Linked DNA regions of Homo sapiens. The protein of the gene in region 1 interacts with the protein of each later gene in a pairwise test. Each region holds a gene or a part of one and is shown in the gene's direction. Other genes may lie near its edges.

What was found. Proteins that work in one complex are often made in the same cells at the same time.
Region 2: the proteins of ZBED1 (region 1) and LRRC20 interact in binary tests that used the Homo sapiens proteins (3 or more experiments, as listed by UniProt).

What each region holds. Positions count from the first base shown.
Region 1 is NC_000023.11:2,494,404-2,498,057, reverse strand, and holds part of ZBED1 (E3 SUMO-protein ligase ZBED1), read left to right. Parts: intron 1-3,654.
Region 2 is NC_000010.11:70,337,626-70,341,279, reverse strand, and holds part of LRRC20 (leucine-rich repeat-containing protein 20), read left to right. Parts: intron 1-577; coding exon 578-727; intron 728-3,654.

The sequences.
Region 1 (3,654 bases):
ATAGATGTTGGTCATGCCTTTACAGAGGGGGTTTAGAAGCAAATTGAGAATTCCCATAAGAGGGTCTGTCTCTGTGTTCTTAAGACTATATCCATGCGGCCCATTCAGTAAGTTGTATCTGTTGGTTGGATTTTAAAATAGATGATTTAATCAGTGCATTTAATATCCTAATATGGCATCAAAACTTGAACATTGATATGGCCTGAAATCTGTTGAAAATGATCATATTGAGTAAAGAAAGTCTCTACCCACCGGTATTAATAACAGGGTGATCTGTTTAGAAATTACATTTTCTCTGATACATCAATGAGTTTTGCAAAGGAGAGAAAATTGATGGTACCTGTAGTCAAGTCCAGTTCCAATACTGCCACAGAATTTTTCTTAAAAGTTCTATTGTAAATAATAGGCCACAGAATATTCCTTCACTTTCTGGGATGCAAAATGGATTCGTAAATGCTGTACCACAGGAGTGAGTATTTACAAAAAATATGCCAACTGGCCCACTTACAAAGCTATTTATAGAAGTCCTACTTTTCAAACTATTTTTTTTTTAACCTGTAAAGGGAAAGTTAATTCTTGTTGGTTTTATGAGTAGTGAACAGTGGCTATTAGAAATCAGGTAGAAGTAAAAACAGCAGTTTTCCAACTTCTTCTTCTTTTTCTTGAGACCAAGTTTCGCTTTTGTTTCCCAGGCTGGAGTGCAATGGCGTGATCTCAGCTCACCACAACCTCTGCCTCCCGGGTTCAAGCGATTCTCCTGCCTCAGCCTCCCGAGTAGCTGGGATTACAGGCATGTGCCACCATGCCTGGCTCATTTTGTATTTTTAGTGAGATGGGGTTTCTCCATGTTGGTCAGGCTGGTCTCAAACTCCTGACCTCAGGTGATAGTCCACCTTGGCATCCCAAATTGCTGGGATTACAGGGGTGAGCCCCTGCCCCCGGCCTCCAATTCCTTGATCATAGAATCTCTTTCAAAAAAAATGAGGACCCCAGACAGTTTTTGTTTTTGTGGATTATAACAGTCAATAAGTCATCCTGTTAGACATTAAAACAGAAATTTAAAACATATTTAACAATCTATTTAAAAGTAATGGTAACAGGCCAATTACATGTTACATACAAAAATGTATGTAATATATTTATTGTTTTTATATTTTATTTTTATTAAATATATATATTTTTAGAATAATTTATACTTTTCTATAAATATAAAATACAAATAAGTTATATTTATATAATTTAGATGTAAATAAAAACAATTGATATTTTTATATAAATATATAAATGTGTACACTTATGGGGCACAGTGTGATGCTTTGCTGTATGTTTGCATTGTGGAATAATTAAACTAATATCTATCACCCGCTATTTTTCCTTTGCGGTGGGAACATTTAAAATCTCTTTTAGCTATTTTTGTTTTTTATTTCCATAGGTTATTGGGGAACAGGTGGTGTTTGATTCCATGAGTAAGTTTTTTAGTGGTGATTTGTGAGATTCTGGTGCACCCATCACCCAAGCAGTATACACTGCACGCAAGACATTTAAAATCTCTATTGGCGGGCCGGGTGCGGTGGCTCATGCCTATAATCCCAGCACTTTGGGAGGCTGAGGCGGGTGGATTGCCTGAGCTCAGGAGTTTGAGACCAGTCTGGGCAATACAGTGGAACCCCATCTCTACTAAAATACAAAAAATTAGCTGGGTGTGGCAGTGTGCGCCTGTAGTCCCAGCTACTTGGGAGGCTGAGGCAGGAGAATGGTGTGAACCTGGGAGGTGGAGGTTGCAGTCAGCCAAGATTGCGCCACTGCACTCAAGCCTGGGCAACAGGGCGAGACTCCGTCTCAAAAAAACCAAAAAAACAAAAAAACAAAAACAAAAATAAAAACCTCTTTTAGCTATTTTGAAATATGTAATACACTATTAACTATCGCCACCACGCTGTGCAGTAGGTCACTGAAACGGATTCCTCCTGTCGAACAGAAACTTGGTACCCTTTGGCCATGTGCTGTATGTTTTTTAAAAGAAAAATGATTGTCATTTCCAAAATAACAAAAACCTAGGGAGAAGAGTGGCTGAGTTTTAGGGTTTTGTCAGTCTCATCCATAAAGGGACGGATGGCGGCTGGCTCCTTCCTCTGCTTCTTCACACTGGTCTCTTGCGACGTGTCGTTCTGGTAAGAGTCATGTGAGGCACATCCACTGGCCTCTCATGGATGTGCAATTGGAAACGTGAAATCGCCGGCCCCCTGAGAGCGTTTTGGGGAGTGTCCCCCCCAAACCCCCCTCCCCCCGCACTGGGGATGCTGCACCAGTCTTGAAGAATGAGGCAGTGAGAGGCTGGTTTACAGCAACCTTTATTCGTGGCCTTGTGTGCTCGGAAGCGCTGCAAGGGAGGAGGAAGGAGGAAGGAGGGTACTCACTGCAGAAGGTCAGCTCTGCTGTGGCTGTTACGTGGGTTCAGGTGGAACCCACCTACTGTGTGGACGGTTCTTTACCTGGGAATCCCATGGAATTCTGACAGCAGGAGACGTGGGAGGGAGCTTCTTGTTTCTCCTTCCAGGAGTCACTTGGTTAGGGGTTTGGGAATTTTGGCTCTTAGTACAAAACTTCACTCCAGGTACTAGACCTGTTTCAGCCAAATGATGATCATCATAATAGAATAGAAACCTTTGTTCACCTAAATAATAACAATAATATTAATAATAATAGAATATAAACCTTTGTTCATGGTACTGGGGCGTCTTTCAGCCCAATAATAATAACAACAATAGGAATAATGATAATAATGATAAAATATAAACCTTTGCTTCACGTCCTGGAACGTCTTTCAGCCAAATAATAATAATAATATTAATGATAATAGAATATAAACCTTTGTTCAGGGTACTGTGACTTCTTTCAGCCCAGTAATAATAATAATAATAGTAATAATGATAATAATGATAGAATATAAACCTTTGCTTCATCTCCTGGAACGTCTTTCAGCCAAATAATAACAATAATAATAATAATGACAATAGAATATAAACCTTTGTTCAGGGTACTGTGACCTCTTTCAGCCCAGTAATAATAATAACAGTAGTAATAATGATAATAATGATAGAATATAAACCTTTGCTCCAGGTCCTGGGAGCTCTTTCAGCCAAATAAGAATAATAATAGAATATAAACCTTTGTTCACAGTACCAGGACCTCTTTCAGACCAACAATAATGACAGTAATAATAATTATAATGATAATAGAATATAAACTTTTCTTCTAGGTACTGGGACCTCTTTCAACCAAATAATAATAGTGGAATATAAAACTTGGCTCTAGGTACCAGAACCTTTTTTCAGCCAAATAGTAATAATAAGAATAGTATTAATAGAAAACAGACCTTTGGTCCAGGTACTGGGACACCTGTGAGCCAAATAATAATAATAATGATAATAATAGAACATAAACCTTTGACTGAAGTGCCAGAACCTTTTTCAGCTAAATAATAATAATAAAATATAAACTTTTGTTCCAGGTACCCGGACTTCTTTCAGCCTAATAATAATCATAGAATATAAACCTTTACTACAGGTCCTGGCACCTTTCTCAGCCAAATAGTAATAAAATAGAATATAAACTTTTGTTCTGTTACTGGGACCTCTTTCAGCCTAATAACAA
Region 2 (3,654 bases), on another chromosome or scaffold:
AGTGACTGGGTCATATGGTAACTCTGTGCTCTGTGTTTAACCATTTGAGGAAGTGCCTGACTGTTCTGCACAGTGGCTTCCCAACTGCTGCTTGTACGAGGCTTGCCTTCAGCGTGACAGGACTAGGAAGAAGATCAAACCATAAAGTCTGTGTGAATTGCCTGTTTTCAAAGAAGTAGACTATTGTAAAGCAGTCTTTAGACTGCATCTGCGCTGTCGAGTCTTTGATGATTCTAAAGGGACTTGTGGATTCTGCAGGATCTCAAAGGCACTGCTATGAATGCCAGTCATCTTTGTGCCGGCAGACACGATTCTGGCTAGTAGGCTGTGGTAACAGAGATGGTGCTAACACAAATCCTTAGGTTCAGGGTGCAAGGGAGGGACAGGTGTGAGTTAATGCCTATGAGGAGGGCTCCTGGAAGAGGGAGGGCAGGGTCTGAAGCCTGGTCCTGGGGAGACAGGTGGGAGGGCAAGGAGGCTGGAAGGGGGCATGGAGGTGGGGTCTGTGTGAGTCTGGGACAAGTTCTCGGGCAGCTGTGGCTGATAACTCTGGTTTGTTTTTGTTCTTTGGCTGCAGACCTGGCCGAGTGCAAGCTGGTCTCCTTTCCCATTGGCATCTACAAGGTCCTGCGGAATGTCTCTGGCCAGATCCACCTCATCACCCTGGCTAACAACGAGCTTAAGTCCCTCACCAGCAAGTTCATGACCACATTCAGTCAGCTCCGAGGTAGGCCCTGGTCAGCTCCAGCCAGGAGGGCATGGCCAGCTCTCATCGTTCAGGCTCTGACCCTGTCTGGGGAGTGCCACCAGAGCTGGTCCCTGGTCAGCGACACCCATGAAATCATTCCCATGGGTTGACTTTGAAAATGGACCTGTGTTCTCCCTGCAGCTTGGAACTCTCTAGGTCACTTCTGCCTCTAGCTGGCTGTGAAGCAGATTGAACAAGGATCAAGGGTGTGGTTCCTGGAGTGATTCTCTTGTTCTGAACAGACCAGCAGGGTGTTTGGGTCCTGAGGCCCTGGGAGTTGTTATTTCCCAGTAGTCTTGAATGAGCCCCCTTCTCACCTTCCAATCTAGTGTTGTTCTCCTGTGTTGCTCTCTCAGTTCAGGAGTGACAGATGCCAGGGATGTTGGCATTTTCTTTTCTTTTTTTTTTTTTGAGATGGAATCTTGCTGTATCGCCCAGGCTGGAGTGCAGCGGTGTGATCTCGGCTCACTGCAGCCTCCACCTCCCAGGTTCAAGCGATTCTCCTGCCTCAGCCTCCCAAGTAGCTGGGATTACAGGTGTGTGCCACCACACCTGGGTCATTTTAATATTTTTAATAGAGGTGGGGTTTTACCATGTTGGCCAAGCTGGTCTCAAACTCCTGACCTCAGGTGATCTGCCCGCCTCAGTCTCCCAAAGCGCTGGGATTACAGGTATGAGCCACCATGCCTGGCCGATGTTGGCATTTTCTCTGCTGGGCATATTCAGAGCATGTGGTTGTAGGTGCTTGCCATCAAGGTGGCAGGAGTCCAGCAGGTGAGCCTCGTAGATGCTCTAGAAATGGTTCCTCTGGATGGACAAGCAGTGTGGCCTGACTGCTGCAGTGCCTGCCCTCTTCTCCAGAGAGCAGTCTCTCCATCCTTCTACGAGAGGTCACTGCTGCTCAGTGACCCATGTGACAGAGCTGTGGCATGGGCGCCTGTTGTACGTTTGTGAACGAGTGGAGTGGGAGAATTGCGGAGGGCACAGGAAGCCTAGGGGGGCAGATCCTGCTTCATCCCAGACTCACATGGACCCCAACTCCATGCCCCCCTTCCAGCCTCCTTGCGCTCTCACCTGCCTGCCCTGGAGACCAGGCTTCAGAGCCTGCCCTCTGTCTTCCAGGAGCCTTCCTCACAGGCATTAACTCACACCTGTCTCTCCCTTGCACCTTGAACTTAAGGATTTGTAACAGCACCATCTCTGTTGCCACAGCCTCCTAGCCAGAATTGTGTCTGCTGGTACAAAGACGACCAGCATTCATAGCAGTGCCCTTGAGACTTTGAAGAATCCACAAGTCCCTTTGGAATCATCAAAGACTCAACAGCGAAGATGCAGTTTAAAGAGTGCTTCACAATAGTCTACTTCTTTGAAAACAGGCATTTCACACAGACTTTCTTCCTAGTCCTGTCACACTGAAGGCAAGCCTCATACAAGCAGCAGCTGGGAAGCTGCTGTGTAGACAGGTCAAGCAGTTCCTCAAATGGTTAAACACAGAGCACAGAGTTACCATATGACCCAGTCACTCCCCTCCTACGTATATACCCAAGAGGTGTAAAAACATATGTCCACGTTGCCAGGTGCAGTGGCTCACGCCTGTAATCCCAGCACTTTGGGAGGCTGAGGCAGGTGGATCCCCTGAGGTCAGGAGTTCAAGATCAGCCTGACCAACATGGCGAAACTCTGTCTCTACTAAAAATACAAAAATTAGCCGGGTGTGGTGGCGCACACCTGTAATCCCAACTACTTGGGAGGCTGATGCAGGAGAATCGCTTGAACCCGGAAGGTGGAGGTTGCAGTGAGCTGCGATCGTGCCACTGCACTCCAGCCTGGGTGACAGAGCAAGACTATGTCTCAAAAAAACAAAACAAACAAACAAACAAAAACCAAAAAAACAAAACCATACATCCATGCAAAAACACATTACACGTGGATGTTCATGGCAGCATTATTCATAACAGCCTGAAAGCTGGAAAGTGGAAACAACCCAAATGTCTATCAACTGGGAAATGGATCCACAGAATGTGGTCTCCCCATGAAAGGGAATATCATCTAGGATCTAGGAATGCTCTACGTGATAGGGATATGAAAAGGGTCTAAGATCCTGTTTAGAGAAAGAAATACATGAAATGCTGATGATGCATGAGGGACCCGAGCAAGCCTATCTCATAGGGCTGACTTTAGGCTAGGCAAGCTTCCTAGAGGAGGTGTGGGCATTGGGCAGGCCAGGAGGGAGAGGGTGCATGAAGTGGCAAACACAGTGCAGGGACAGTGGCTCAGGAGGGAGCTACAGGCAGGACTTGGAAAGGCCACCATGCAAACAGAAGGACAAGGAGGAGGGATTAGTCTACATAGCTGTTTCTGAGTGAAGCTCACAGAGTTTGTTGCATTTGTGCCTGAAAAGCTAAAATCCCTATGACTTGGAGGACAGGGAGAGGCTCCTAGAGCAGGATTTCCAGGTCTGGAACTTTCCAGGCCACCTGTGTTTGTCCCAGGGTCCTCTAGTGCTGTACTCAGCCAATTGGGATTGGATGTTTGCTTTCCCGAGGAGGATAGAATGATTGAAAATGGAGGGTGGGGCTGTCCGGGCCCTCAGAAAGGGCACAGTCAGGCCCTTTGGGTAAGAGGAGAGTTCACTTGTGCTTTTACTTCATTAGACCTTCCCTTGAACACCTGCGTCTCCCAGACCTAGGTCCGGAGGCCCAGAAACAAAGGCCAATCCACCAGGGTCTCCCCCTGAGGAGACCAGGGTTGCAGGACACATTGTCCTCACCACCCAGTGCTGTGATACGGGTATGGACAAAATGCTGGAAGGGACTGCTGGGAAGAGGAATGAATTCTTCCTGAGAGTGGCATGGGAAGGGCCTGGGTATGGATGCAAGAGCTTTGAAACTGCTTGACATCTGGGG